Linked DNA regions of Homo sapiens. The protein of the gene in region 4 interacts with the protein of the main gene of each other region in a pairwise test. Each region holds a gene or a part of one and is shown on either strand. Other genes may lie near its edges.

What was found.
Region 1: the proteins of NAF1 (region 4) and MAGED1 interact in binary tests that used the Homo sapiens proteins (3 or more experiments, as listed by UniProt).
Region 2: the proteins of NAF1 (region 4) and DAZAP2 interact in binary tests that used the Homo sapiens proteins (3 or more experiments, as listed by UniProt).
Region 3: the proteins of NAF1 (region 4) and ELOA interact in binary tests that used the Homo sapiens proteins (3 or more experiments, as listed by UniProt).

The regions. Positions count from the first base shown.
Region 1 is NC_000023.11:51,888,487-51,897,337, forward strand, and holds the start of MAGED1 (melanoma-associated antigen D1), read left to right. Parts: upstream 1-5,136; 5' UTR 5,137-5,269; intron 5,270-5,782; 5' UTR 5,783-5,818; coding exon 5,819-5,863; intron 5,864-6,140; coding exon of another isoform or gene 6,141-6,308; intron 6,309-6,566; coding exon 6,567-7,274; intron 7,275-7,922; coding exon 7,923-8,591; intron 8,592-8,721; coding exon 8,722-8,785; intron 8,786-8,851. UniProt on the Homo sapiens protein: Involved in the apoptotic response after nerve growth factor (NGF) binding in neuronal cells. Inhibits cell cycle progression, and facilitates NGFR-mediated apoptosis. May act as a regulator of the function of DLX family members.
Region 2 is NC_000012.12:51,240,914-51,244,433, forward strand, and holds the end of DAZAP2 (DAZ-associated protein 2), read left to right. Parts: coding exon 1-203; intron 204-1,416; coding exon 1,417-1,545; coding exon of another isoform or gene 1,546-1,739; 3' UTR 1,740-3,020; downstream 3,021-3,520. UniProt on the Homo sapiens protein: In unstressed cells, promotes SIAH1-mediated polyubiquitination and degradation of the serine/threonine-protein kinase HIPK2, probably by acting as a loading factor that potentiates complex formation between HIPK2 and ubiquitin ligase SIAH1.
Region 3 is NC_000001.11:23,738,327-23,746,962, forward strand, and holds the start of ELOA (elongin-A), read left to right. Parts: upstream 1-5,144; 5' UTR 5,145-5,177; coding exon 5,178-5,252; intron 5,253-8,636. UniProt on the Homo sapiens protein: SIII, also known as elongin, is a general transcription elongation factor that increases the RNA polymerase II transcription elongation past template-encoded arresting sites.
Region 4 is NC_000004.12:163,163,328-163,172,095, reverse strand, and holds the start of NAF1 (H/ACA ribonucleoprotein complex non-core subunit NAF1), read left to right. Parts: upstream 1-5,205; 5' UTR 5,206-5,368; coding exon 5,369-5,733; intron 5,734-5,813; exon of another isoform or gene 5,814-6,874; intron 6,875-7,704; coding exon 7,705-7,879; intron 7,880-8,768. UniProt on the Homo sapiens protein: RNA-binding protein required for the maturation of box H/ACA snoRNPs complex and ribosome biogenesis.

The DNA.
Region 1 (8,851 bases), on a different chromosome or scaffold from region 4:
GGAGAAACTGTATCCTTCACACATAGCTGGTGGGAATGTCAAATGGTATGATCACTCTAGGAAAGTTTGGTAATTTCTTGTAAAACTAACATGCACTTACTATATACCCCAACAATTGCACTCTTGGGTACTTATCCCAGAGAATTGGGAACTTAGGTTCACACAGATACTTGTACACAAATGTGTGTAGCAGCTTCATTCACAGTAGCCCAAAACTGGAAATGACCCAGATGTCTTTCAGTGGGTGAATGGTTAAACCAACTGTTGTAGCACCTCTATACCATGTAATAGTACTCAACAATAAAACAAGAAACTCTGATACACAAGACAACTGGGATGCATCTCACAGGCATTATGCTGAGTGTGAAAAAAGCCAATCTCAAAATGTGACATATTGTATGATTACATTTTCATGACCTCTTGAAATGATAAAATTATAGAGATGGAGAACACATTAGTGGCTGCCAGGGGTTAGGGATGGGGGCGGTGGAGGAGGGTTGGTTGTGACTATAATGGGGTAGTAAGAGGGAAATCTTTGTGGTGATGAAATAGTTCTGTGTCTTGATTGCTGTGGTGTTTGTAGAGACTTCCACATGTGATAAGGTGATATAGAACTATATACACATATTGTACCAATGTCAGTGTCTTGGTTTTGATTTTGTACTGCAGTTACACAGATGTAACCATTGGGGAAGCAGATAAAGGGTACATAGAACCTCACTGTACTATCCTCGCAATTCCCTGTGTATCTGTAATTATTTCAAAATAAAAAGTTTAAAAAGTTTTTTAAAAGCAGAATTAATAAAATATTACCTAAAAGCAGTAGGGCATCAGTTATATTTCAAAAATCATGTCATAGGGCCGGGCATGGTGGCTCATGCCTGTAATCCTAACACTTTGGGAGGCTGAGGTGGGTGGATCACCTGAGGTCAGGAGTTCTACACCAGCCTGGCCAACATGGTGAAACCCCATCTCTCCTGAAAATAGAAAAATTATCCGGGCGTGGTGGTGGGTGCCTGTAATCCCAGTTACTCGGGAGGCTCTAGCAGGAGAATCACTTGAACCTGGGAGGTGGAGGTTGTAGTGAGCTGAGATCATGCCACTGCACTCCAGCCTGAGTGAAAGAGTGAGACTCTGTCTCAAAAAAAAAAAAAAAAAAAAAAAAAGCCATATGTATTAGCTGGTTGGATACCATTGCTGCCGCTACTGAACAGTGGACACCGGATGTTAGCCCTGCCACTAATGCTGCCCCTAGAAACTGGATTTTCTTGTGGCTGCTGCTCCCACCACCACAACTATGGTGGTGAATTCCATCACTGCATATTTGAATCACTCCTTTGAAACAAAGTGTTAGGTCTAAGTTGTAACTGCAGTGAAAGGGTTGTACTCAGCAGGTCTGCAATGTTCAAACCCTATGCTTTCCAAAAAAAGGTCTTTTGCAAAGAATGCTTTGGCTCTTGACCAGCTCTTGGGAGATAATCTGTAAGCCCTTGGAAGTATCCTGCCTGATCAGAGTGTCTTTGTTTACTGTGGCCTTGGCCCACACTGGATAGTTTGTGCTAACAGTGTGATTTGTGGTGTGAGCCTTGGGCTGAGAGATACTAGTTTAACCTCTGCATGGACTAGAGACTGAATAACTAAGGTCAACCACACAGGTGCTCCATGCCTATCTGACTGAACCCCAAAAACAACTCTGGGCACCAAGGCTTGGGTGAACTTCCCTGGTTGACAGTATTTCATACATGTTTTCACACATCATTGTTGGGGGAATTAAGCACTGGCCATACAACTCCATTGGGAGAGTACAACTGAAAAGTCGTGCCTGGTCTCTCCTGAATTTTTCCCTATGCACTTTTTACTTTTGCTGATTTTAATCTGTATCCTTTCACTGTAATAAACAATAGCCATAACACTTTTTCTGAGTTCTCCGAATCCTTCTAGCAAATCATTGAATCTGAGGATGGTCTTCAGGAGCTTGCCACACTGGTAAATCCTAGATCACATTCTCTTAGCTGCCAAGGGCATGTGAAGAAGTGAATATCTGGCCTTTGTGGCTTTTGCACTTGGAACTGTTAAGTAAGAATATATATGACCTTACTAAAATGTTAAAAATCGAAATACATCTGGCCCCAAGGGTTTTCAGTAAGGATCTATAACGCTATATAAAGAACTCCTAAAAGTCAGTAAGACAGACAACCCAAATGAAAAACAGGTAAAATATACAAGCATATTACAAAATAAATCTAATATGTTCATTAATGTATAAAAATGTGTTCTACCACATTGCTTATCAGAAATATAAATTAAAACCATAAGGAGATACCAATAAATACACATAAGATTGGCAAAAAAAAAAAAAAAAAGGAAAAGTCTTGTAGAGTATGTCAGTCTTACTCCTGGGCTTCTGGTGTCACGGAAATAAAGACAAACATTAATTATTAAAGTATAAGAATACATGTACAAGTATTTTTATTGCAATGTTGTTGTATTGCCACGCTCCCCACAAAAATCCTGAAACTAAAATGGATTCCATCCATGGGGGAATGGTTAAATACATTGTGGTACATTCTTACCATGGAATATTATGCAGTCATTTAAAAGAACGAATCACAGGTAGACTGTTGTCAAATAAGATAATTCAGACACATAAAAGTTCATGTAATCTTAAATTTGTAAAAATAAAAAACAACTTTTGAGTATGGAAGGATATCAAATGGTGTTAAAAACAAGTGTTTGGCAGGTGAAGGTAGAATTGAAAGGAAGTGGGAAGCAGTAAGGAAAAGAATGCAATTTAAGGTCTGGCATATATAACACATCATTTATGTAACAACATATATGTGTGTAAAGTATGAAAAGGTAGCACCAAATCTAAGCAATTGTCCAAGGTGATGAGATTTAGTGATGTTTATTTAATTTCTAAAATATTTAGGCAGTGTTTGAATGTATAGTGATGAGTGTGCATTATTTGTATAATGAGGAAAAATAAGTGAATTGATCACAGGAAAAATTGCCTCTCAGGTTTCTTGCTTTAGCAATGGGATGGAGAGTGCGATTCATTCATTTAACAAATATTTATTGAGGATATAAAAATGTGCCAGGCATGGTTCTAGGTGCTGGGGAAACAACAATGAATAAAACAAAAATCTGTCTCCCTAAGAGGTTTACACTCTAAATGGGGGAGAAAGGCATAACTAGAGGAGAAACACTGTGTTGGTGGGAAGGAGGAGGCGTATGAAGGAATCGGTTTGGGACCTGTTAATTTAGAGAATACTGAGAGATATCCATTTGGAGAAGTGAGGTAGGTAGTTACTATGGATCTAGAATTCATAGGCCAAGTCATGACCGAAGATACAGATATGGAAACAGATAGCATAGAAAATGGTGTTTCTGACCTCCTTTCCTGAGTCTGATCACGTCTCACTGCAGACACTTTACAGAGGAAGTGCTGAGGAAAAACAGGCAGCTGACAGAGGAGGTTGCTATGCAACAGATGAGGAAAGTCATCCAGCCAGGCAGAACTGATGTTGGCCCTTGGGGACCAAATGCTGCAGTCCTTCCTAGCATTAGCTTCCTTTCATGTTCAGGCTTCTGGCATGAGTTGATGCCAGAACAAATGTGAACTGCACAAAGATCTGTCTTGAATTTTGGAACTGTACCAGTTTAATTTGAGTCACCTCACATCTGTATTTAATTTTCTGCCTTTTTGAGTTTCTCCAGTTATCCTGGAAGCATAGCAGCGTGTGTGTCCTTGGGTAGGACCCACTTGCTGTGCATTCCACTTTGCACATTGAGAAACCAGGCCCAGAGAATTGAGTGACCCGTGCGGGCTCACACAGCTCGAGACAGACAGGCTGGGCACTCCATTCCTGGAATTCTGAAGCCCAGCCCAGTTTCTCTCCATAAAACCACAGCTGCCCCAGGCCCCAGCCCTGAAAGGAACCAGGGCTTGCCATGGCTCAGACACACAGGTCTGATTGTCCTGGCTGCTCCAGTGGGCACCAGGAAGGCCTCAGGGACAGTGTGATTGTATCCCTGATAAGGAAGAGGCCTGATGTTCTGAGCACAGAGTGGACCCCAAGGAGCAATTCCCACGCCTGGATGGACCCACACAGGGCAGGGGGAGGGTGGGGGCCTCTGCTTGTGTCCTCCTGAATGCAGAGCATGAGCTTGGGCCTCCTAGAACACAAACTTTGCTTGTTTGGTACAAATGGGGTGCCGTGGTCTGTTGCTCAAATGGAGGAGGGAGGGGTACCCTTAGTCCCCAGGCCAGCATGAGCAGAATGTGGGCTTTGGAGTCAGGAAGACCCAGACCCAAATTTTGCATTTTGTTTCCTGGCTCTGTGGCCTTGTCTAGTTCATGCAATGTATCTGTGCCTCAGCTTCCTGATCTGCAAAATAGGGGTGCTGACATCCACTTCCCAGGGCTGCTGTGACAGGAAGACAAGCCCCAGCACAAATCCTGCTGTGATGTACAAGCTGTGCCCTTCCCTCCTTTCCTCCCCCAACACACACAAAATGAGTCCATCACCGGAGCTGCAGAAAGAAAGGGAAGAAACTAACGTTCTTTCTGCGTCTGGGAGCTTGTGGGGGCGGGCAGGGGGTGAGGGAGAAATCATGGAGTCACGTGGCAGCCACAGACTTACTACTACTACTTTGTTAGCTCCAATAGTGTATCCTCTCAGGCCATTCCGTTTCCTCAGCAGAGGTCTAACACTTGTTGCAATTAGAGACCCCAAACAGAGACCTAAGCATGCTGGACAAGGGGGTGGAGATGCAAGCCGGCCTGACAGGAGGGGCCTTGAATAGGGGAGGGACGGAATAGAGACGCATTGCGGAAAAGGTAGGGGGCCGGTGTGTGGGGCAAGGGGTGGGACCAAGAGGCACAGCGCATCTGTGGGGGAGGGGGCGTAGAGGAAGGGGAGGTGCTGTTGTATAGTGTCGACCTGGTTGGTGGTGGGGTGGTGTGTTGGCAAAGGGGGCGGGACCGCCTTCCAGCGCACATGCGCATCATGGTCTCCAGGACGAAGCTTTTGTTGGGAAAGCAGGCGGGACTGACTTTGGCTCTTCAGTGTTTGCGCATGCGCGTAACGTCCTGAGGCGGTGGGTGGTATATTAGGCGAAGAGGCGGGGTCGCCCAAGCTGCCGCGCTGGCATTTTCTCCTGGACAAGGAGAGAGTGCGGCTGCTGAGAGCCGAGCCCAGCAATCCCGATCCTCTGAGTCGTGAAGAAGGGAGGCAGCGAGGGGGTTGGGGTTGGGGCCTGAGGCAAGGTGAGAATTAGCCCCCAGACTGGGCATCTGCCCCCTGGTGCGGGCCCCCATTTTTTTTTATCCCGATCCCTTCACCCTGGATTCTGAATCCCCTTCCACCCCCCAAACCCCAATTCAATGCCCCTCCCGATCCTTCCTGATTCAAAACCCCTGTCCGATCCCTCCCATCGTTCGAAATCCTCAGATTCCTTGACCTCGATCTGTACTGTTAGATGATTCCTCCTGACTCAAAACCTCCATGCAACTTCCCAAATGCGAATCCCAACCCAACCGCACCCCCGCTCCGAATTCAGAACTCATCTGCTTCCCGATCCCCATTTGAAGCTTCGCCCTGTCAGTAGCTTCTCGGGGTTCAGAACCTCCATCTGGACGCCCATTCACTTTTACCGCTCCGATCCGTTCCTCCTCACATTCACCTTATCCGCCCGCACAGTCAGACCACAGTCACCCCCCTCCCAATTAGGTCCTTCGTATTTGCCCTCTGTAGTATAACGCCCTGCCCCTCTCCCACAGCCCCCAGGCTCCGCTCTTGCCAGAGGGACAGGAGCCATGGCTCAGAAAATGGACTGTGGTGCGGGCCTCCTCGGCTTCCAGGTGAGATCTCCACTCCCCACCCCACCATTTCCCCAGCCGACAGTCACCCCTCCCCGCGGGCCTCTTTGGTCTCCCAAACGCCGGGATCCGGTTTGACCCTATTTAGTGACTAGACTCCGTGGGCTTTTCGAATTCCCATCGTTTATCGAAGGGGGGGAGGGGCGTCTCTTTTCAGCCATCAGTCCCTGCTCAGAGAGAGGGGAGACCCTGTTAGTAGTCAGGGCAATCTGCCCAGAGAATGCGGGGTGGGTAAGGAACCATTTTTTTTTTTTTCCAGAATCCTGACGCTTGTAGAGCAGTCTGTCACCCCCTCCCCCAGCCTCCTGCCTCCACCCTCCCTCTTTCTGCATTCCCCACTCTGTGCGACCCCCCTTATTCTCAACTCCGCGATCCGCCTGCCGTCCTGAGCTGCTACTGCACGCCTCTTGGAGCGTCCCCGGCTCCTGTTCGTGCCCACTTTCCGCATACCGCCCCACCCCTCATTTTGCCCTTGCCCTACTTCACCCCTGCCACATGTTTAGTACCCGCCTGGTCCCCCATCGCCCCTCGCGGGCCCCCTAGATCTCTGCCTCAGCCCCCCTGTTTTTGCACCCACCGCCCGCCTGCAGCTCCGCTGCTGCGCTGCCACCCGGGCTCCCTATTCCCACCCCACCTCCTGCCTCAGAGGCCCAGAGATTTAATTTTTTCCCCCCTGTGTTTGCAGGCTGAGGCCTCCGTAGAAGACAGCGCCTTGCTTATGCAGACCTTGATGGAGGCCATCCAGATCTCAGAGGCTCCACCTACTAACCAGGCCACCGCAGCTGCTAGTCCCCAGAGTTCACAGCCCCCAACTGCCAATGAGATGGCTGACATTCAGGTTTCAGCAGCTGCCGCTAGGCCTAAGTCAGCCTTTAAAGTCCAGAATGCCACCACAAAAGGCCCAAATGGTGTCTATGATTTCTCTCAGGCTCATAATGCCAAGGATGTGCCCAACACGCAGCCCAAGGCAGCCTTTAAGTCCCAAAATGCTACCCCAAAGGGTCCAAATGCTGCCTATGATTTTTCCCAGGCAGCAACCACTGGTGAGTTAGCTGCTAACAAGTCTGAGATGGCCTTCAAGGCCCAGAATGCCACTACTAAAGTGGGCCCAAATGCCACCTACAATTTCTCTCAGTCTCTCAATGCCAATGACCTGGCCAACAGCAGGCCTAAGACCCCTTTCAAGGCTTGGAATGATACCACTAAGGCCCCAACAGCTGATACCCAGACCCAGAATGTAAATCAGGCCAAAATGGCCACTTCCCAGGCTGACATAGAGACCGACCCAGGTATCTCTGAACCTGACGGTGCAACTGCACAGACATCAGCAGATGGTTCCCAGGCTCAGAATCTGGAGTCCCGGACAATAATTCGGGGCAAGAGGACCCGCAAGGTGAGATCTCTGCTAACTTCATTTTGCTTTGGGGCTGTCTCCTTTCTTCTCTGAGGGTGTTCATTTGTTCTAAACAAAACAATGTATGTAACTGTATTCAGCTAGGCTATAGGGCATTTGAAGAGAATGTTTATTCCTGTCCTCCGGATGTTCACAAACTGATGGGGAGATAATACATGGACACAAATAATATATACAACCTGTATGTAATTCAGTTTACATTTTGTTATGTTAGTAACCACCATGTGTTAAGCCTTGAGCTAGGCACATTCACACAGGTTGTCTCATTAAACCTTAAAGGCACCTCCTACCAGGTAGGGATCATAGTGCCAATTTTACAAAGAAGGAAATTAAGTGCCAGAGAGGTGAAGTGACTTGAGTGATTTGTTCAGGGTGGTACAGGCAGAACCAGTGGTGGACATAGGAAGAGGAGAAGCCTCAGGCCCCATCTTTGGGTTGCTCCTGGCCTGGCTCGGAGATGAAACTCCTGCCTGGAAGACAGTGAAAGACAAACCCAGGACTCAGGGTGACCAATGGCTAGTGGGTCAGGCTGTCACTACAGGTGAGGGTTTAGAGGGCATTCCTGGAATAGATAAGGTGAGGACACAGAACCCACTGGTGATTCTGAACTTCTCTCTGATGATGCAGATTAATAACTTGAATGTTGAAGAGAACAGCAGTGGGGATCAGAGGCGGGCCCCACTGGCTGCAGGGACCTGGAGGTCTGCACCAGTTCCAGTGACCACTCAGAACCCACCTGGCGCACCCCCCAATGTGCTCTGGCAGACGCCATTGGCTTGGCAGAACCCCTCAGGCTGGCAAAACCAGACAGCCAGGCAGACCCCACCAGCACGTCAGAGCCCTCCAGCTAGGCAGACCCCACCAGCCTGGCAGAACCCAGTCGCTTGGCAGAACCCAGTGATTTGGCCAAACCCAGTAATCTGGCAGAACCCAGTGATCTGGCCAAACCCCATTGTCTGGCCCGGCCCTGTTGTCTGGCCGAATCCACTGGCCTGGCAGAATCCACCTGGATGGCAGACTCCACCTGGATGGCAGACCCCACCGGGCTGGCAGGGTCCTCCAGACTGGCAAGGTCCTCCTGACTGGCCGCTACCACCCGACTGGCCACTGCCACCTGATTGGCCACTTCCCACTGACTGGCCACTACCACCTGACTGGATCCCCGCTGATTGGCCAATTCCACCTGACTGGCAGAACCTGCGCCCCTCGCCTAACCTGCGCCCTTCTCCCAACTCGCGTGCCTCACAGAACCCAGGTGCTGCACAGCCCCGAGATGTGGCCCTTCTTCAGGAAAGAGTAAGAGCTGTAACTCCCCAGTCACTTTTCCCCTCTCTTGCTCTTTTCTTTGTCATCCTCTCATCTGTAATTCAACCAAGTTTTTTTGTAAATATTTTATAAGTTTAATGATTTCCTTTTTCCCTCCCAGGCAAATAAGTTGGTCAAGTACTTGATGCTTAAGGACTACACAAAGGTGCCCATCAAGCGCTCAGGTATGCATCCAGTGTCCCCTCCCCAAGCTCTGCCCTTCCCTTCACTCCATGCTCTGTCAGCATTCT
Region 2 (3,520 bases), on a different chromosome or scaffold from region 4:
CCACCATGTCAGCCGCATTTCCTGGAGCCTCTCTGTATCTTCCCATGGCCCAGTCTGTGGCTGTTGGGCCTTTAGGTTCCACAATCCCCATGGCTTATTATCCAGTCGGTCCCATCTATCCACCTGGCTCCACAGTGCTGGTGGAAGGAGGGTATGATGCAGGTGCCAGATTTGGAGCTGGGGCTACTGCTGGCAACATTCCTGTGAGTATGACCTCATCAGAAGAAACTCAGCCCTTGTGTATTTTAACTTTCTGAAATGACTTCATATTCATTCTCTTACCATTTCTGGATGATAGTTGCCAGTGTTGGTACAACTACTGACATCCAATACTCAGGCAGAAAGTGTTTGAGGGGGCAGAACTGTGGCAAGTGAGTAGCATCTCACTGGGGGCTGAGTTAACCAGATTCTTTTGTTTTCATGTCTGTCGAGTCCTGCTTGCTGCTTTTCCAGTTCATTGTGGTACACTGAACTGGTCTAGTAATGCTCCTTATTCATTCCATAAGCATTTACCATTTACTTAATATTTGCCATCAGCATGGTGTTGCACTAGGAACCCTGATAATTAAAAAAGTAGAATGTATAATCCCTAGTAAGTAGCTTTTAGAAAGATATTAACAATTTTAGTTATCATTTTTTCCTACTTAATTCCCCAGTGCGTGGGATTTAGAGCTCAAATGACTGCTCAGTAACTACATGCTAGAGATGAAGTGAATGTGTCATTAGCGAGCCTTCAGTTTTCCAGTAGTTCATTCAAAAACTGTGTAAGGGCGAAGCACGGTGGCTCACCTGAGGTCAGGAGTTTGAGACCAGGCTGGCCAACATGGTGAAACCCCGACTCTACTATAAATACAAAAATTAGCCGGGCATGGTGGCAGGCGTCTGTAATCCCAGCTACTTGGGAGGCTAAGACAGGAGAATCACTTGAACCTGGGAGGTGGAGGTTGCAGTGAGCTGAGATCCCACCACTGCACTCCAGCCTGGGCGACAAGAGCAAGACTCTATCTCAAAAAAATTAAAAAAAAAAAAAATTAAAAATTAAAAACTATGTAGGGACCATGTGGGATTCATACATGGACTGGCACCCTGTCCCTGTTTTGGGAATGTGAGTAGGACAGTGGTTCTCTACCCTCAAAATGACTGTTGGTCTGGTCTGTTCATGTTCAGAAGGTAGCCATAGGCTTCATCTTAGAGCTGGAACCCTTTGAATGAGTGGTAGGCTCCCTTTCCTGTTTGTATCTTTGGGTTCACATAAAGTATAGACCTACTTTAGAACTCAAATTGGTGGCGGAACTAGCTCCTTAAAACGCAGCTGGTTAGCACATTGCCTCATCCTAACAGGCCTCTGCTTCCCCTATGTCCCCTTCGCTTATATTAGCTGCCCTGTGCCCATTCTATCATGTCATTTCCTTTCAGCCTCCACCTCCTGGATGCCCTCCCAATGCTGCTCAGCTTGCAGTCATGCAGGGAGCCAACGTCCTCGTAACTCAGCGGAAGGGGAACTTCTTCATGGGTGGTTCAGATGGTGGCTACACCATCTGGTGAGGAACCAAGGCCACCTCTGTGCCGGGAAAGACATCACATACCTTCAGCACTTCTCACAATGTAACTGCTTTAGTCATATTAACCTGAAGTTGCAGTTTAGACACATGTTGTTGGGGTGTCTTTCTGGTGCCCAAACTTTCAGGCACTTTTCAAATTTAATAAGGAACCATGTAATGGTAGCAGTACCTCCCTAAAGCATTTTGAGGTAGGGGAGGTATCCATTCATAAAATGAATGTGGGTGAAGCCGCCCTAAGGATTTTCCTTTAATTTCTCTGGAGTAATACTGTACCATACTGGTCTTTGCTTTTAGTAATAAAACATCAAATTAGGTTTGGAGGGAACTTTGATCTTCCTAAGAATTAAAGTTGCCAAATTATTCTGATTGGTCTTTAATCTCCTTTAAGTCTTTGATATATATTACTTGTTATAAATGGAACGCATTAGTTGTCTGCCTTTTCCTTTCCATCCCTTGCCCCACCCATCCCATCTCCAACCCTAGTCTTCCATTTCCTCCCGCCAGTCTCCATTGAATCAATGGTGCAGGACAGAAAGCCAGTCAGACTAATTTCCTTCTTTCCTCGCACTTCTCCCCACTCGTCATCTTTTAACTAGTGTTTCACAAGGATCCTCTGAAACCCTCTCTGTGCCCCAAGTACAGATGCCATTACTTCTGCTTTCGTATCTCCTCAGGCAAAAGTGGAGGGTGCCTTATGGGCCCTCCTCATAGGTTGTCTCTGCATACACGAACCTAACCCAAATTTGCTTTGGTGCCAGAAAAACTGAGCTATGTTTGAACAAAGATGTCGTGCAAACTGTACTGTGAACAACAGTTGGTTTAAAATATGAGGGGCAAGGAGGAGGATGCATTTCAAAAGCTTGATTGATGTGTTCAGAGCTAAATTAAGAGGAGTTTTCAGATCAAAAACTGGTTACCATTTTTTGTCAGAGTGTCTGATGCGGCCACTCATTCGGCTCCCCAGAATTCCTAGACTGGGTTAATAGGGTCATATTGTGAATGTCTCACTACAAAATGACTTGAGTCCAGTGAAATCTCATTAGGGTTTAAGAATATTTCAGGGATCCTTAATGTTTTGATTTTTGTTTTCTGAAATTGGATTTTATTTTATTTTATCTTATAATTTCAGTTCATCTAAATTGTGTGTTCTGTACATGTGATGTTTGACTGTACCATTGACTGTTATGGAAGTTCAGCGTTGTATGTCTCTCTCTACACTGTGGTGCACTTAACTTGTGGAATTTTTATACTAAAAATGTAGAATAAAGACTATTTTGAAGATTTGAATAAAGTGATGAAGTTGCATTACACCTCACTGCAAGGATTCTTTACTTAGCTTGTTTTTAGATTTCTTCTATATATATTTTATTTATATCCCATCTAGAATTCAGCTAGGTGCTGCTGCTGCTCTGTTTCCTTTGATGACGCTTTGAAATAAAGGCAGGAGTACAAGCCTAAGACTTGATCATTTCATGAATTCCATTCCAGATGTTCAACTTTTCATCATTTTACTCCAACCTCTTACAAATTTTGGAATTTCGGACCTAAACTTAGAAATGAGGGAACTATTGATTCTCCTAACTTGCTCTAAAGTTTGGCTTGAAGAAAAGGTTCTGGTATAGCAATTTGTATACGTTGAGGATGACCTTTAGTTTCTCCAATGTTCTATGTGGAGAAATACTGAAAACTCATAGAATCTAGGTTGCCAAGATAGATTCCTCAGCTCTTTTATTTATTTTTTGAGACAGGGTCTCCCTCTGTCACCCGGGCTGGAGTGCAGTGGCAGTGTCTGCTCACTGCAACCTCCACCTCCCGGGTTCAAGTGATTCTCCTGTCTCAGCCTCCTGAGTAGCTGGGATTACAGGCACCTGCTACAACACCTGGTTCATTTCTGTACTTTTAGTAGAGACGGCTTCACTGCGTTGGCCACGCTGGTCTCAAACTCCTGACCTCAAGTG
Region 3 (8,636 bases), on a different chromosome or scaffold from region 4:
GATGTGAAACAAAGATGAGTGTAGTCAATTCAGAAACATGAACCCATGGGGAAGAGAACAGTGGCCACAGCTGTGCAGAACAAAACTGGCCAGATGGGCCAGGCACAGTGGCTCACACCTGTAATCCCAGCACTTTGGGAGGTTGAGGCAGGCGGATCACCTGAGGTCAGGAGTTCGAGACTAGCCTGGCCAACATGGTGAAACCCTGTCTCTACTAAAAATACAAAAATTAGCCAGGCGTGGTGGCACACACCTGTAATCCCAGCTACTGGGGAGGCTGAGGCAGGAGAATTGCTTGAGCCCGGGAGGCAGAGGTTGTAGTGAGCCAAGATCCTGCCAATGCACTCTAGCCTGGCTGACAGAGCGAGACTCTGTCTCAAAACAAAAACAAAAACAAAAACAAAAACAAAAACAAAAAAAACTTGCCAGATGGAGGATTTTATATCTTGCTTTACAGCAGCACATTATATTTTCTTTACCAAGGCAATGCATTTTCCCCAATAATTGCTGCCTTTTCAAAAAGACCTATTATATGCCAATTACTTGACATATTAATAAGCCTCAGGATATCTATACAGTAGGAGGAAAAAATTTCAGCAAGTTTAAGTAACTTGATCAGGAGCCATGGCTAGCATTGGTGGAATTGGGATTGGAGCCCAGGTTGTCACTAAGCTCCAAGCTTTGTTCTTTACACCACCATCCAAGCAACTTCAGATGCTGCCTACTTGCTAAGATAGAGTGGCAGACCTCTCGGCAGAAGAGGTCCAAGGAGGAAGCCCGCTTGAGCCACCATGCCTCACTTAGCACACTGTCAGGCCCGCAGAATCTTACTTGACTGTTTTATGAAAGGGCTCCTCTCTGCTATGAGGACAAGATGGTTGATTTTTTTTTTTTTTTTGAGACAGTTTCATTCTTGTTGCTCTGGCTGGAGTGCAATGGTGCAGTCTAGCTCACTGCAACCTCCATCTCCCAGGTTCAAGTGATTTTCCTGCCTCAGCCTCCCAAGTAGCTGGGATTACAGGCACCCGCCACCACACCCGGCCAATTTTTTTTTTTTTTTTTGAGACAGTTGTTGCCCAGGCTGGAGTGCAATGGCGCAGTCTCAGCTCACTGCAACCTCCGCCTCCCGGGTTCAAGTGATTTTCCTGCCTCAGCCTCCCAAGTAGCTGGGATTACAGGCACCCGCCACCACACCCGGCCAATTTTTTTTTTTTTTTTTTTTTTTGAGACAGTTGTTGCCCAGGCTGGAGTGCAATGGCGCAATCTTGGCTCACTGCAACCTCTGCCTCCTGGGTTCAAGCAATTCTCCTGCCTCTGCCTCCTGAGTACCTATGATTACAGACAGGTGCCACCACGCTGGGCTAATTTTCATGTTTTTAGTAGAGACGGGGTTTCACCATGTTGGCCAGGCTGGTCTCGAACTCCGGACCTCAGGTGATCCACCCACCTCTGCCTCCCAAAGTGCTGAGATTACAGGCATGAGCCACTGCGCCCGGCCTGAAAATTTTTTTAACTTGTCTTTCAGTGTTTTAAATCTCTCTAATGCTAGCCAGCCTAGGATTACTCTTTTCCAAAATTAAAATACCTTTAAGTTATTTTCATTATAAAAATAGACCAGACTGGGTGCAGTTGCTCATGCCTGGAATCTCAACACTTTGGGAGGCTAAGGCGGGAGGATCACTTGAGCCCAGGAGTTCAAGACCAGCGTGGGCAACCTAGTGAGACCTTTTCTCTACAAAAAATAAAAATAAAAAAATTAGCTGGGCATGGTGGCATACACCTGTAGTCCCAAGCTGAGGCAACAGGATTACTTGAGCCCAGGAGGTCAAGACTGACAGTGAGCCGTGAATGTGTCAGGGCACTCCAGCCCGGGCAACAGAGTGAGACCCTGTCTCAAAAAAAAATAAAGTAAGGGCTGGGTGCGGTGGCTCATGCCTGTAATCCCAGCACTTTGGGAGGCCGAGACGGGCGGATCACGAGGTCAGAAGATCGAGACCAGCCTGGCTAACACGGTGAAACCCCATCTCTATTAAAAATACAAAAAAAATTAGCCGGGTGTAGTGGCGGGCGCCTGTAGTCCCAGCTACTCAGGAGGCTGAGGCAGGAGAACGGCATGAACCCGGGAGGCAGAGCTTGCAGTGAGCCGAGATCGCGTCACCACTCCAGCCTGGGCGACTGAACGAGACTATACTGAGTAGACTATACTTGCTGCAAAAATTCAAAAAAGTGTACGGAGCAGATGAGAGCCTCCTTGCCCATCCTCCTCCCCTAGTATAGCCTTGAATTCATCTCCCAAACAGAATAGGATGGGTCTTTTAGTTACTCTCGCAGAGGGCTCTGTAGTGCTGATAAGAGAGCTGAGGAGCCCCTCTTAGGTTTTCAGATGACACGTCAGGCTAGCCTTATATTTAATAATTTAAATTTAATAATAATTATTTCAGTTTTCAAGAAACTTACTGAATCTCACCTATGTGCTAAATGTTGCTGATTGAAGATGGGTAAATAGCCTCTGACCTTAGGGATCTCATTCCTGTGTTGAACACTCGTGTGTAAACCAAGGGTTACAATGGTAATCCCCCAGTGAATACATACAGAGTACCAATTTTAGAAGTGGTTGAAAAGTTTTTTTAAAAAATCAGAGAATTACACATGTATAATTAGCTGCTCATCCTAGAAGTCATATATCCAGACCAGGCGTGGTGGCTCATGCCTGTAATCGCAGCACTTTGGGAGGCTGAGGCGGGTGGATCACTTGAGGTCAACAGTTCGAGACCAGCCTGGCCAATATGGTGAAACCCCGTCTCTACTAGAAATACAAAAATTAGCCGAGCGTAGTGGCGCATGCCTGTAGTCTCAGCTACTCGGGAGGCTGAGGCAGAAGAATTGCTTGAACCTGGGAGGCAGAGGTTGCAGTGAGCCCAGATCTCGCCATTGCACTCCAGCCTGGGTAACAGAGTGAGACTCTGTCTCAAAAAAAAAAAAAAAAAAAAGTCATATATCCAAATGTAAGAGTACTTTGCAGGTAAGCCTGACTCAGTCTGACATAGGGGTGGCTGTCTGGGAGCAGCACACCCACTCCAGGATCCCCCAGAAGCATTCGTTGTTTCTTTCTGTTTTTTTTTGGTTTTGTTTTTTCTGTTGCCCAGGCTGGAGCAGTGGTGCGATCATGGCTCACTGCAGTCTTGATCTCCTGGGCTCAAATGGTTCTCCTAACTCAGTCTCCCAAGTAGCTGGGACCACAGGCACGCACCACCATGCCTGGCTAATTTTAAAATTTTTGTATTTTTTGTAGAGGCTGGGTCTTACTACGTTACCCAGGCTGGTCTCAAACTCCTGGGCTCAAGCAGTCCTCCCGTCTTGACCCCCAAAGTGCTGGGATTACAGGCATGAGCCACTGTGCCCAACCTCATTGTTTCTTTTCATTTTGGTTATTGAGCTCTCTCTGGATAACATCTGCAGAATGTTTCATGTGTCCCGAGTATGTGCCAGGCCAATTACTCAGCAATTCTGCTTCAAGAATCAGTCTGTATTCCATTACACCAGTGGTACATTTTCAAAATGGAAGGAATATAAAATGTAAAAGTATTTGCTACGCAGAGGAGGGAGACACTACTGCTGGGACTAGAATCGAAGTTTTCTCACACCCAGTTCAATGCCTTTTCTACAACATCCCTCAGTTGAGCCTTAGGGTACCAAGTGGATGGTCATTAGTCTTGTATGGACTTTATATCCAATGCTGATTATAAGGTCTAGATGATGCTAGGTGGCAGAGATTCAAAGTTGGACAGGTCGGTTACTGTACTTGATAAATAAACAGCCCAGTGGCAAGACAGATAAATAAACTGACCATTTACACCCTGAAAAGGTGGTCAGTTGCTTAGGGAACTGGGGGAGGGGCGCCAAATGGAGGAGTAGGGACATGGTAGAGAGGGCTTTTCAGCATAGTGAGTGAATGAATGCTCATTTGAAGAAACAACTTGTGTTTAAGATGTTTTTCTTTCTTCCAGAGCTAGAATCTGGAAGAATCTCTGGGCTTTCCTGCTTTGAGGGAGAGATCAGGCTAGGTGCATTGCCAATTTGCTGCTGAAGATCTGATTAGGTTCTGCTTTGATGTGATCAAATGAGATGTAATCAGTGCTGGTACTTTAAGTGAGTTTGCAACTATTTAGTTGCTCTTTTTAGTAGTAGTATTAGTAATGGTAAAACTTAGTGCTTTTAGGATGAGAGTAGACGGCCTGAAGAATAATATCTTGGGCTCTTCTAATCAAGCCATACGGCTCATTGGCAAGTCATCAGAGGAAACATCTATCTATCTATACATTCATGCAATAAGTATTTATTTAGTGCCTATGTGCCAGACACTGTTTGTGGGGAAAACAAGACACATGGGCTATTATTGCCTCATGGAAGGAACTAAGCTGTTTGGATTTTGAAAAATCCCTTTCTCTGGGCCTCAATTCCTCGACCTGTTCAGAAATGTGCGCTCACAATGGTCCTAGACATCTTAGATTCAGGTTCCATTTTCAGTTCTTTCCTGTCCTGCGGCCATCTGCAAGTTAATTTGGTCTCCCTGAACCTCAGTTTCCTCATCTGTAAAATGAAGATCATACAACTCGTTTCATCAGGTTGTACTGAGGCTGGAAAAGATAGTCTAACTACTGACGCATCGTGTGCTCAGCCTAGGGTGGCTGCTACCGCGGGTGCCTGCGGACTCCTAGGACGGGCACCAGCCCGGGACCCCTGACAAGGTGTTGATTAGGGTGTGGCTAAGCCCCAGGCGGGAGAAAGCGTTGGCATTTATAAGGCCAGGGTCTGGCGCGGTGGCCTCATTCCGTCTTGAAGTAGACCCTGGAGAGGTCTTCCAGGCTTGGGCTCAGCACGCGAGCACAGGGAGCGGGGGTGCCGGCGGCGGAGGCGCGTACGGCCCGAGCAGCCCCCAGCCCCCAGCGCGCACACTTGGGCCAGGGGCGCGAGGAGTGCGCGGCCGCCGGGTGGGCGCTGGGGAGCGGGCCCTGGGGGCGGAGCCTGCAGCCCACCGCCCCCCACACACCCCAGCCGAGGCCCGGAAGGGGCCAGGCGCGCTTCCGTCTCCGCCGGGGATGCACGGAGGGCGGAGCTGCGGCCCGAGGACGCGACGCGAGCCCAGTTCCGGCGAGGAGGCCGCGCCAGTGACAGCGATGGCGGCGGAGTCGGCGCTCCAAGTTGTGGAGAAGCTGCAGGCGCGCCTGGCCGCGAACCCGGACCCTAAGAAGGTAAGCGAGGGGGCGGCGCGTAGCGGGATGGGCGTTGGGTCGGTGAGGGCCCCGTAACGGTCGCGGCCCGAGCGTGGCGGGGTTCGGGGGCTGGGACCCTGAGCCAGGCCCCGCGGGGCTGGGGTCGTGAAGTTCGCGGCCATTGACCGCTGCCCGCGCGTTGGGACCCCGTGCGTCGGGCGTCGGGACGCGGGGCCCCGGCCGCTCCCCCTCCCTCACGGGCCCGGGATGGGGGCGCGCCCGGTGCGGACACCGCGTGCCTAGCGCTTCCTCCCAGAGGCGCTCCGTGGCGTCCCGAGCCAGCTGTTTCCTGCGGGAGAGCGTGCCCGGGGCGGGAGGGCGCTGGCCGCCGCCTCGTTGGCCTCCCGGTGCCTGCGCTGGTGCCCGGCTCCCCGCGGAGCGGCGCGGACTCCCCAGCGGGTGCGTGTTCGCTGGGAGGAGAAGACGGGCGCCCGAACGCTGCGGAGCCTGGACTCGCGGTCTGGTCCGCGCCTCTCGGAGACGCGGTTACTACTCTCCGGCTGGATATCAGAGCGTGGACCTTTCGCTTTCTCAGTGAATCCCTTTCAAAACAGAATAAAGCCTCGCGTCACCTAAGCATACTCCTGAAAACTTAGGTTGGAATTGAAAAAGAGGCGGGGGCCCGGGGTTGGAAGTCGCAGCTAGGTTTCCTTTTGGCCATTAATAGGAAGGTAAGAGCTACCGTTTCTCGTTGTTCGAGTGATGGACAACCATTTTTAATTGTAGTTAACTAGTTTTTGTTGTTTATTGTACAAACTGAATATTAAGTTAAACGCGTTCTTGTACCTTTTCATCTTTCTGTCACTCACTTCTCTGGTCTCCAGGAGACAGTCTGGTGGTTGTCAGGATTTTTTTTTTTCTTTTTTTTTTTTGAGGCGAGTCTTGCTCTGGTCGCCCAGGCTGGAGTACAGTGGCGCGATCTCGGCTCACTGCAACCTCCGTCTCCCGGGTTCAGGCAATTGTCTGCCTCAGCCTCCCGAGTAGCTGGTATTGTAGGCGCCCGCCACCACGCCTGGCTAATTTTTGTATTTTTAGTAGAGACAGGGTTTCACCATCTTGGCCAGGCTGGTCTTGAACTCAGTTGTCAGGATTTTTTAAGTGGAAGTACAACGATGAAAAAGCACTTATGTGTTTGGCATTCTCCGTCATCATTCTGGCCGGGGCGGGCAGTTCTAGGAGTTGGAACTCAGTCCTGGTGGAAAAGGAAGTCGTGGAGGGAGGGCTAGGGCCGTGGGGGAACTGCTCTGCTGAGCCTCTTCCTCACCTGCTGCTTCCTAGGACTAACCTGAAAGGCTAAGGTACCAGGCTGAAAGTCAGTGCTCAGAAAACCAATCGTCATTCTTTGGGGTTTTTTTTCTTGAAGAGCCACTTTCTCTTTACCTTGTTCTAGCCTGTTGGAGGTAGGGTTTCTGCAATTCCAAAGGCCGTACACAGCCTCTCACCATCAGACCACTTTTTAAGGCTCTTCGTTCATACCTAGCTCGAAGATTCACTTCCTCAGGAAGCCATTTTAGTTACAAATCTGGGAAAACTTAAAATGCTTTCATTGTGCCATGTTTTCTGTTGCAGCTTCAGTACCGTACCTAGTGGTCAGGCATACTTACAAGTTTCTTTTTACAGTAACCCCTTGTGGACATCTAATAAATGGTCATTATTTTTTAGTACTAGTTTGTTTTCCTGAACACTGTAAGATCTGTGACTGACGTTTGATACCTTAAAGCAGTGCCATATAATAACTACCCACTATTTGTTCTTTATTTCTGTCAGATAAAAATGTTCTATGTAGTGTCTACAGTCATTTTTTTTTTAACTAGAATTTAGATTTGGAAGTAGTTTTTCTATTAGTTGATTTGCATGAAATACAAAATTAGGAAAAGGCTTATTCCACCTCAACCTAGTTGAACTATTAATGATTTTTTTTTTTTTTTGAGGATTTGGGCTCTTTCTAGATAGAAAATCACCCTGAACTTCTAGCTTTGCATTGTGAAGTGAGCATCATGAAGATGAGAAAATGTTGGGAGATCATTTTTGCAAAGGGCATAATAGTCGGCATTCAGATATGAGTTAACTGCAGAGGGAAAATTGCAAGCTGTCATGTTGGCCTTGTTCCTCTCAACCTTCTGGTAACCTAACAAGCTCCTACAGGTTGTATGTGAAATTGCAAGATGATTATATAGCCCTGTTGAATTTACAACCAGATCTTGCTTTCAAACCATTATTAGCCAAGGGTTTGATTCCACACCTGTGTTCATGGATTTTTTGGTACTAGACATTGCTGTAACTCTGTTTTCACTTTTTCATCTGTTATCTTGGCTCACTTAAGGGAGAAGGTATCAGCAGCCTAGGACCACTTGGTTTCTGTTTTTATGTTTCATAGTTCATGGCTGATAAAAATTACCTGTCCTTAGGCCGAGTGCAGTGCCTCACACCTGTAATCCCAGCACTTTGGGAGGCCGAGGTGAGTAGATCACCTGAGATCAGGAGTTCGAGACCAGCCTGGCCAACATGGTGAAACCCCTTCTCTACTAAAAGTACGAAAATTAGCCAGGTGTGGTGGCAGGCGCCTGTAATCCCAGCTGCTCGGGAGGCTGAGGCAGGAGAACACTCGAACCCGGGAGGCAGAGGTTGCAGCGAGCTGAGATCGCGCCATTGCACTCCAGCCTGGGCAACAAGAGCGAAACTCCGTCTCAAAAAAAAAAAAACAAAAAAAACACACACACACAGTTGGCCGGGCGCAGTGGCTCACGCTTGTAATCACAGCACTTTGGGAGGCCAAGAGGGGCGGATCATCTGAGGTCAAGAGTTCGAGACCAGCCTGGCCAACATGATGAAACCCCATCTCTACTAAAAATAAAAAAATTAGTTGGTCATGGTGGTGGTGCCTGTAATCCCAGCTACTCGGGAGGCTGAGACAGGAGAATCTCTTGAACCCAGGAGGCGGAGGTTGCAGTGAGCCGAGATGGCACCATTGCACTCCAGCCTGGACAACAAGAGCAAAACTCCATCTCCAAAAAAAAAAAAAAAAAAAAAAAGGATCCTCGTCCTGTGTTACATTTTCACTGTGAAAGCTACCAAGAACATTTTGATGGCAGGTGACATTAAAAATATTTTTTGCTTTTTTGGGTTGAAGGATTGTACAGGGGACAACTGAGATGCCTCAACATGTACCTTGCAAATGTTTGATATTTCTCAGTTGCCTGTTACCAGTTCTTACAAGCTCTATAGTTGGTATCTTGTTTGATAACAGCAAGTTTCGATCCACCTGAGGATGCCCAATGTGCCTTTGCCTTGTTATTGCTTTGTTCTTTCTTGAAATTTACTGAAAATAGAGGGGTTGTGAAGTCCTTTTTTCTCTTGTGTTAG
Region 4 (8,768 bases):
GGCCCGAACAAATGGTTAGGACCAGGTGTGCTATCTGCATAGAGCAGGGTCTCTATCAGCCCCCACCCCATTCTTTGATCATGTGGGTACACTCTTAGTTTATGCTGCTCTGTGCTGTTTGTGTGTGCTAAAAGGGAGGGAAGAGTGTCTGTGCCTATTCCCAGGCACCTTCTTGCAGCTGCAGGTATCTCACCTGTGCCTACTTCCAGCTTCCCTGTCTTAGTATGCCTAAAGAAAGAGAAAGAGATATGCTTATGAAGGCCCACTGTTTTTACTGGGACCCATTGTATGTATGTGAAGTTTGGTGATTACCCAGGAAACTCCCCACTCTGTGCCTTAGTTGCTTATATGTGTTTTACAGCCTGAGCGTCCAGGCTGCTCTTTGTTAGAAAGGAAGTGATTTCTTTGAACTGATTGAGGTTAAAAAGGGAGCTATTTCTGAGCTGCTTTTTGTTAGAAGGAAAGTTTTCTGCCTGGGACTCACCCTAACTCTCTACCTAAATAATTTCTATCTCCTATAACACAAAGATACTGGACCAAGTATGCTCAGTTCCTTTTCCCAAGATCACCAGTCAGATGTCACTCTCTTATCTGATAAGTCACTCTCTTACAAGCTGAGTGTGAGAGGAGACTAGGTGGCAAGAGATGCCTAGTCTCTAATCTATAATTTCTGTCCATACTCTCAAATGAGTCCAGTAGAGTTTCAGTCCATTTTGAGTTAAAATAGCACTTATACCTCTCTTTTCCCTACTACACTAGTTGGCAATGCAAACATATGACCTTGACTTAAATTAGTGCTACAATATATAAATAGGAATAGCAACTCACCCAAACAGTCACATAACCTGCTTTTAATCATTTTGTGATATATATTAGAAAATCTCATCATTTTTATCTAGCAAGTGCATTGTAGGTTTCTGGAAATGTAAATGTGTCTATTCATGTATTTTTAAACATTGAAATAGACTAAGATCAATCAGTGACATTTATAGAAATAATTTAAGTTTTACGTGCTCCCTTTGAAATGTAATATGCCATTTAAATTGTAATTTAATTCAAGGTAAATTCTCTCATAACGTTAATAGTGACCCTGTAAGCTACACAGTCTTCCAAGGTGTTTTTTTGGATTTAGTCTTAGGTTAAAGACTTCAGGCTAAGTTTAGCAACTGTTAGAAATAATGCGGTTGAGAGGAAGGCTGTGGAAGTAGGTAAATTCAGGACATTCTGAAACAAGCACTTAGAAAAATTACCATTTGTGAAACACTGACCTACTTCAAAGCTAGGCATAGGTACCACTATCATTATGTTGAAACACAGAAACATTTCCACCACACAAACAAAAGACTTTTATTTAAAAACAGTAGCCTTTCTTAGATATCATCAGATTAATTTAAATTGAAAGAATAACAGATATTATCTGTTAAGTCATATTCCTTACTCTGATTGTCCCATTGAGCTTTATTCTTTCTTTCTTTCATTCATCCATTCAAAAATCCTTATAGGATTTATTCTGTTTCCAGGCACTTAGAGAAACAGCTGTGAATTAGACAAAGATCCTGGGCACCTGAGACTTAATTTTATGAAAAAACAGACAATAAAGAAGTAAATAAATATAATTTCATGTGAAGATAAATACTATTTAAATAAAAACAGTGAGCTATAAGCTAGGAAGTGATTGGTATTGAGGGGTGCACTTAGATTGGGTGGTCTGGAAAGCTCTCTCTTAGGTGTAGTGTTTGAGTAGAACCATAAATGAGTAAAAAGGCCACGTTAATATGAAGAGAAGAGAGAACAGAAAAGTGAAAATGTCACACGTGAAGAATTAACTTGGTGAGTTGAAGGGAGATCAAGACCAGTGCTCATGTGAAACAAGGGTGGGGAAGACGGTAGGAGATAGAAACTGGAGAGGTAAGTAGTGGCCAGATCAGGTAGACTGTTGAAAGCCAAAGCAGGGAGTCTGAATTTTATTCTAAGTGTGCTTACAAATATTTAGAGTTTATAAATAATTAAGCAGGAAATTACAATGATCTTATTTATTATCCCCTGTGAAGGTCTCCTGTTTTCTCAGATTAACAAATTCATGGTTCTCTTTAAAAGTCCAGCTCAAGTATCACACGCATTGTAAAGCCTTTTGTCATTGTCAGTGAGGCAGTGGTTGGGTGGTCCTGTTTAACCAGCTTTCCTAGAGGTGACTTCTCCCATTCAGTTCTATTCAAGTCAAAGATGAGTCTTAGAGACTGTCTCATGCTTTAGTAGTTTATTCTGGCATCGCTCTTAAAAGATAGTGGGAAGAGGCTGGGGGTATAGACCAGATAGTCAGGGCTCGGATGATCAAGAGAGCCTCCAACCAGAGACTGTTCTCAGTGTTGGGGGTTTCTTCCCCCTTTTTAAAACCTGTATTCAGCTTGGTCAGTTATCAGATGTTTCTCTCATAAATGGAGTCGAAGCTATTCTTACAAGGGTAAGCTTTAAGGTTCATGAAAGTTGCATCTGTGCTGAAGTGGCCTGGTCTCCTGGAAATCACTGGGCCAGGGGTGGAAATCTCCAGGGCCAGTTAGTATTATATTGATAAATACATTTAGTGTCAGCCCCTCAAGACACTTGAGTGAGCCTTATGGCTATAATTACTCTTATAGCCACGATATATCTCTTATAGTACATTTTCCTTAATTTTCCAAGTATCTTCTCTGTCTTTAGTTTTCCCATTTCATACATTCTTGCATTTACATGGTACATTTCTCTACTATAGTACCTTCTGCTTGTTTTCAACTTGTCTGTTCTACTGAACTGTTAACTCCATAAGGGTAGGGACTGTGTTTATCTTCCTGTATGCATAGTTTATAATGCAGTGCACAGCATATCGTAATGTTAAGAAAATGATTACTGAATGAACAAATGAGTATTTCAATTATCCCATAACTTAGGCTTCTGGTCTTAACCTTTCTGTCAAATTCCAGTTTCTTATTTTTAAATGCCTATTTACATTTTTAATTGTCTAGTTTTTCTTCAGACTCAACTTCACATACCCACATCTCTTTCCAACTTCTCCGTTTAATTAATTAATTAATTAATTTGAGAGGGAGTTTCCCTCTTGTTGCCTAGGCTGGAGTGCAATGGTGCAATCTTGGCTCACTGCAGCCTTTGCCTCCTGAGTTCAAGCGATTCTCCTGCCTCAGCCTCCCAAGTAGCTGGGATTACAGGTGCCCACCACCATGCCCAGCTAAGTTTTTGTATTTTTAGAAGAGATGGGTTTTCGTCATGTTGGCCAGGCTGGTCTCAAACTCCCGGCCTCAGGTGATCTGCCTACCTCAGCCTCCCAAAATGCTGGAATTACAGGCGTGAGGCCCTGCGACTGGCCAACTTCTCCGTTTTTATTGGTAATACCAACTTCTTTCTAATTTCCTTGACCAGAAATTTTAGAGTACTTTTATTCTTCCCCTGATGCTGGGGATGTCCTTTACTCTATTTCATTGACTGTAAGCCTAGTTCAGACTTTTATCACCTAATTCCTGGAAAAATGCAACAAAGTGGCTGGCTGGGGAATAATTCTGGCTCAAACGTCTTCCCTTCTCAAATCTGTACTGCATGTCTTTGCAAGATCATTGTTAATTAAATATTTTATTCGTGAGTTCATGCATTGTTCCATTTTCCAAGTATTTTTGCACACTGAATGTATGACATGCCACTCCCTTATATAAAGCCTTACTTAGTGCTCACATGAACTAAATGAGATAGTATTTTTATCTCCATTTTACAGATAAGGAAATTAGGATTTAGATTAACTGCCCAAAGTCAGTAACACCAAACACAAAATGGTAGAGCTGAGGCCTGAACACAGGTCTTTTTAGTTGAAAACTCTGAGCTCTGCTTAATCATTGTGCTAGTAAGTTCGTATCCCAAGTTTAAAGTCCTTCTTCACTTTGGAGGATTTCCATGAAATAGCCTACCAATCCTACTTCCCATTTCTGCTGCACTTGGATTTTCTATTTCATATTTCAAATATTTTTCTAGTTATCTCCTGTGCATTGCCCTTCTCTACTTCAAGTAGATTGTAAGCTTCTTAAAACCTTACTCTTATTACACTTGCCTTGCATTTCTATGAAGATCTACTGTTGTAGATGACACACTAAATTCTCAGTGAATAATTTATAAAATCTTTAGCACAGTCCTTGGCACATATGCATGTTTAACAAATGGTATCAATGATTATTATTACTACACAGGGACTGATGCCTCAAACTGAAGACCTAATAGGAAACCAGAAAATTCTGATCTCTTCCTCAGTCCTAAGAACTCTGCTTGCTTTCTCCACAATTTAGACTAGTGGTTTCCAACAATAAGTGAGTACATTTCAGTCTCATAGTCTCATCTCTCTACTACGAAACAGTGCTAAGTATGATATAGACATCACCATAACATGAACAACACAGCAAAATTTTGTCCATTACTGCTCTCTTTGAGGGTACTTTGGAGAAAGGAAAATGGAATAGTTGTAGTTACATTTTTGAAAAAATGGTTAATACCCTATCTATCGACAGATGGATCTATTGATGGATAAACTTCATTTAACTTTCATGAAGTTACTAGCGTCTTGTCAAGACTTCCTGGCTCAAGTTTCTGATGTACAGAACTTAGCATTCTTCAGGCACCCCCCTGTTGTATAATCCCTGCTTCATTTTGGCGCTTCAAGCAGAATTGGTTCACATGCAGCAATAGGAAAATCCGACATTCAGGCCTTGAATGGTTCACATGACGCAGTGAAAACGGTCGATTTAGGGCCTCCCTAGTCCTGATTATTTTTTTTTGAGACGGAGTCTCGCTTTCTCGCCAGGCTGGAGTGCAGTGGCGCGGTCTCGGCTCACTCCAACTTCCGCCTGCTGGGTTCAAGCGATTCTCCTGCCTCAGCCTCCCAAGTAGTGGGAATTACAGGCACGCGCCACCATGCCCAGCTAATTTTTGTATTTTTAGTAGAGATGGGGTTTCACCATGTTGGGCAGGCTGGTCTGTGAACTCCTGACCTTGTGATCCGCCCACCTCGGTCTCCCAAAGTGCTGGGATTACGAGCGTGAGCCACGGCGCCCGACCCCCTAATCCTGATTTTCGAAGATATGACGCATGTATCCTGCCCCCGCGAGCGCCGTCGCGCCGTCGCGCCACATACGTCACACGCTCTTCGGAAAGCGTTGCTGCGTAAATGGCGGGGGCGTGTCTTTTGGCTCCTCCGCGTGTAGTTACCTGAGAAACGCGGGAAGTTGGGCCCAGGCAGTGTTGCTGCGGTTGCCTAAGTTGTTTTTCTATTTCTGGAGAGAGCCGTGAGCTTGTCCAGGGGCCCCAATCCTGAGGCCGACCCGGTTTCTGGCGCGGTGCGATGGAGGTAGTGGAGGCCGCCGCCGCTCAGCTGGAAACTCTGAAATTCAATGGCACCGACTTTGGAGTTGGGGAAGGTCCGGCGGCTCCGTCTCCGGGCTCTGCCCCTGTGCCAGGGACACAGCCGCCGCTACAGTCGTTTGAGGGGTCCCCGGACGCTGGGCAGACCGTGGAGGTTAAGCCTGCCGGGGAGCAGCCTCTGCAGCCCGTTCTGAACGCCGTCGCGGCCGGGACCCCGGCGCCGCAGCCACAGCCACCGGCTGAATCGCCGGCCTGCGGAGACTGCGTCACCTCCCCAGGAGCCGCAGAGCCTGCGCGGGCGCCGGACTCCTTGGAGACCTCGGACTCGGATTCGGACTCGGACAGGTCGGGTGCCTAAGGGACCCGGAGCTGTGGGGAGAGGTCTTGTATGACGGGCGGGGGTGGCTGGGGCCTAGGAGCCTAGAGGTTGCTTGTGTGGGCCCTGGAGGGTGGGCAGGTCGTTGGTGCTCCGGGCTCACGTGTTGAAGTATTGGCTCCGACTGCCCCTTATTCGCTGCCTCTCAAAGCAGGTCGCGTTGTGAATCTGAGCTTAGTACTGACTTATTTCCTAAATTTGGTGGCCTGAAGGGTTCTATGTATAGATCGTATCATTTTTTGTTAGACTTTAGAAAACCCGAGGATCTTAGGTTATTTCCGTAACTACTCAGTTTAGGCTGTACTTTTGTGGTTATAGTTGAGTTTTGTGTCAGATCTGATTTTTTTTTATCATCACATCTAGGCTTTGTTTTTTGAACCACATACATTGGGGATCAGGAAAAGTATTATTTTTTGTGTTTCAAAGCTGGCTCTTGATGATTACGTTAATTTATAGAATCCTTGCAGGGAACACGTGTTTATGAAAGTAGCCAAACAGTGTTATTTAGTAGTATCTTATGCTTCTTACGTTTTGTGAGAGCCTTTCCCCCTTGCCCCCACACCTGTCTTTTAAATATGAAATCTCTGGGCTGGAGAGGACTCCAGCATGTGGGATGTTACTAAACCACACTGAACATTGTCTACAAATAGTTGAGTGTGTTGAGTGGGGTACTGAACAGGTTAACAAGATAGACACGTGTTGAGGAGGTGAGAAGTTTAGTTTTCAGGGAAGTCATCAGCGGAGAGTGGAAGTGAAGAAGGCTGAAGGATTTGAGTAGAAGGAGAGGGTATGAAATGTACTGGGAGGGGGAAGTAACAACTGTAAACAAGGTTGGATTTCTTGGCAGTACTAAGATTGCAGTATAATCATCTTGTGGGATTTCAGAGCTCATTTTACTAGCAAAGAAAAGTAAATGGTAGATGATTTGGGGATACGTTTTGAAAGCAGAAGGGATATGGCGTCATAATAGGCCAACTTAGTGTCAGGATACTACTTCTGACTCTGTGGGTGATGGCAGAGGATACCAAATATTTGAAGAAGTCAAAAGGGGTACAACTTTTTGCCAGTTAACAGCAGTGAAATCAAATGGAAACTGAAGAAGCAGGTTTAGTTAGTATAATGCACTTTTTCTTGTTTTAACTTGCTATGAGTGTGGGTGTATAGGCCATTCGTACAAAGGTGGCCAGTATGCCGTCAGAGATTGGACATGGAGTTTAGAGATGTCATAGCTGAAGATTTAGGCGTTAATTCACATGGATGATGACTGAAATCATTAATGTGTATGGGATTATCCATGAAAGTAGTAGCGAAAGAAGAGAAAGTGAGGATGGAACCCTTAAAAATAGTATATAAAAGGGCTTCAAGTGGGGAGCCAACAAACAAAATTTAAACTGAGACAGTGGTTGCTGTTAACGATAATTTCTGTGGAAGATAAGGACCAAGTGAGTTTTCAGAAAGTAGAATGGTCTACATACTTTCGTAACTGAGGATTTCCCAAGTTGTCTGTAGCCTGAGAAGAAACTCATTAAGCAATCTGGCAATTAAGCGATCTGGTGGTTGTGACTAAGAGAGGTGCCATGCCCAGAATTCCCTTTTTTTAGTGGTTTGTCACATGCTTGCTTATATTCAGACAGGTGTATGATATGTGAGAGTATTGTAATAAGAGGATCTGGGTTATGGCAAAGGTTTGAAAATGTTATTGGTAAACTAAATACTACTTTCCCAATACCATATCAGTTTTGAAGTGCTAGTTTTGAATTAGAACAGCAGTAGTAAACATGTAGTAAAGTTGATATTTCTTAATTGCATAATCTTATTTTAATATTAGAATAAGCAATAGTAAACTTGTATTAAAGTTGATATTTCTTAATTGAATAATCTTATTTTAATATTAGTATAATAATACTGGACTATTTTTTTAACTGTTTTCTTCCCTACAGTGAAACAGATTCAGATAGTTCAAGTTCATCGTCTTCCTCTTCATCTTCCTCATCGTCGTCTTCTTCCTCTTGTATATCACTTCCTCCAGTGCTGTCAGATGGAGATGATGATTTACAAATTGAGAAGGAAAATAAGAATTTTCCTCTTAAAACAAAAGATGAATTACTTCTTAATGTAAGTACTTAGATTTATTAAGCTTAGTTTGCATGTTTTAAAACGTATTCTGGTACCAGTATTGATCTAATTTTGCCTATATCTGCTCCATAAATTTGAAATTTATTCTCAGCCTAATAGGCATGCTTTTGGTATGCCTTGGCTTTCTTATGTAAAAGAGAGTAGTGATCTGGATAATTTCTTAGGTTGCTTCTAACTCTGCTGACCTTTGATAATTGTTCCGATTATGGCATCAACTTCAGCTTTGAACTTTACATTTTTTACATTCCCTAGAAGAAGATATTTCTTATGTAGATTTGCTTTTTTTTTTGGTCTGCACGTCAGAAAATTTTGCTCAATAGCAATTGAAATTTCAATAGCAATTGAAATCAATTTTTTTGGTCTGCACGTCAGAAAATTTTGCTCAATAGCAATTGACTTTTTAATTGACTGCATTTAGAGAAGTAGAAGATGAAATTCAGAGGGTTGAACTTGTTAGGATTCCTATTGAAGTTTTTGGAGTGTTTTTATTATTACAGTTGGAGAAAACTTGTTAATTGTAGAATGGTATTTATTGGCACTCGATAGGTTTGGTTTGCAAAGTTAACTCTTGCAAGGTTATTTCCTCTTATGCTGTAAACATCCTTAGGAGGATGATGTTAGTCTGATTGAAACCTATGACCCAAGAGGAAAGCCTTCTCAGAATTTCAGAATGTAGGCCATATTATCACATTGTTTTTTTTCTACCCCTGCATGTAGTTTTAATTATTAATGCTTTAAAAATATTTAATGGTCACTAATCATAATTCTTATATAACACTTAAATTGATGAGATAGTTTAATGCAAGATTTGAAAAAATAAATTAAAGCCTACAGGCACTCAGGAGCCTTTTTCATGAATGGATTCTGC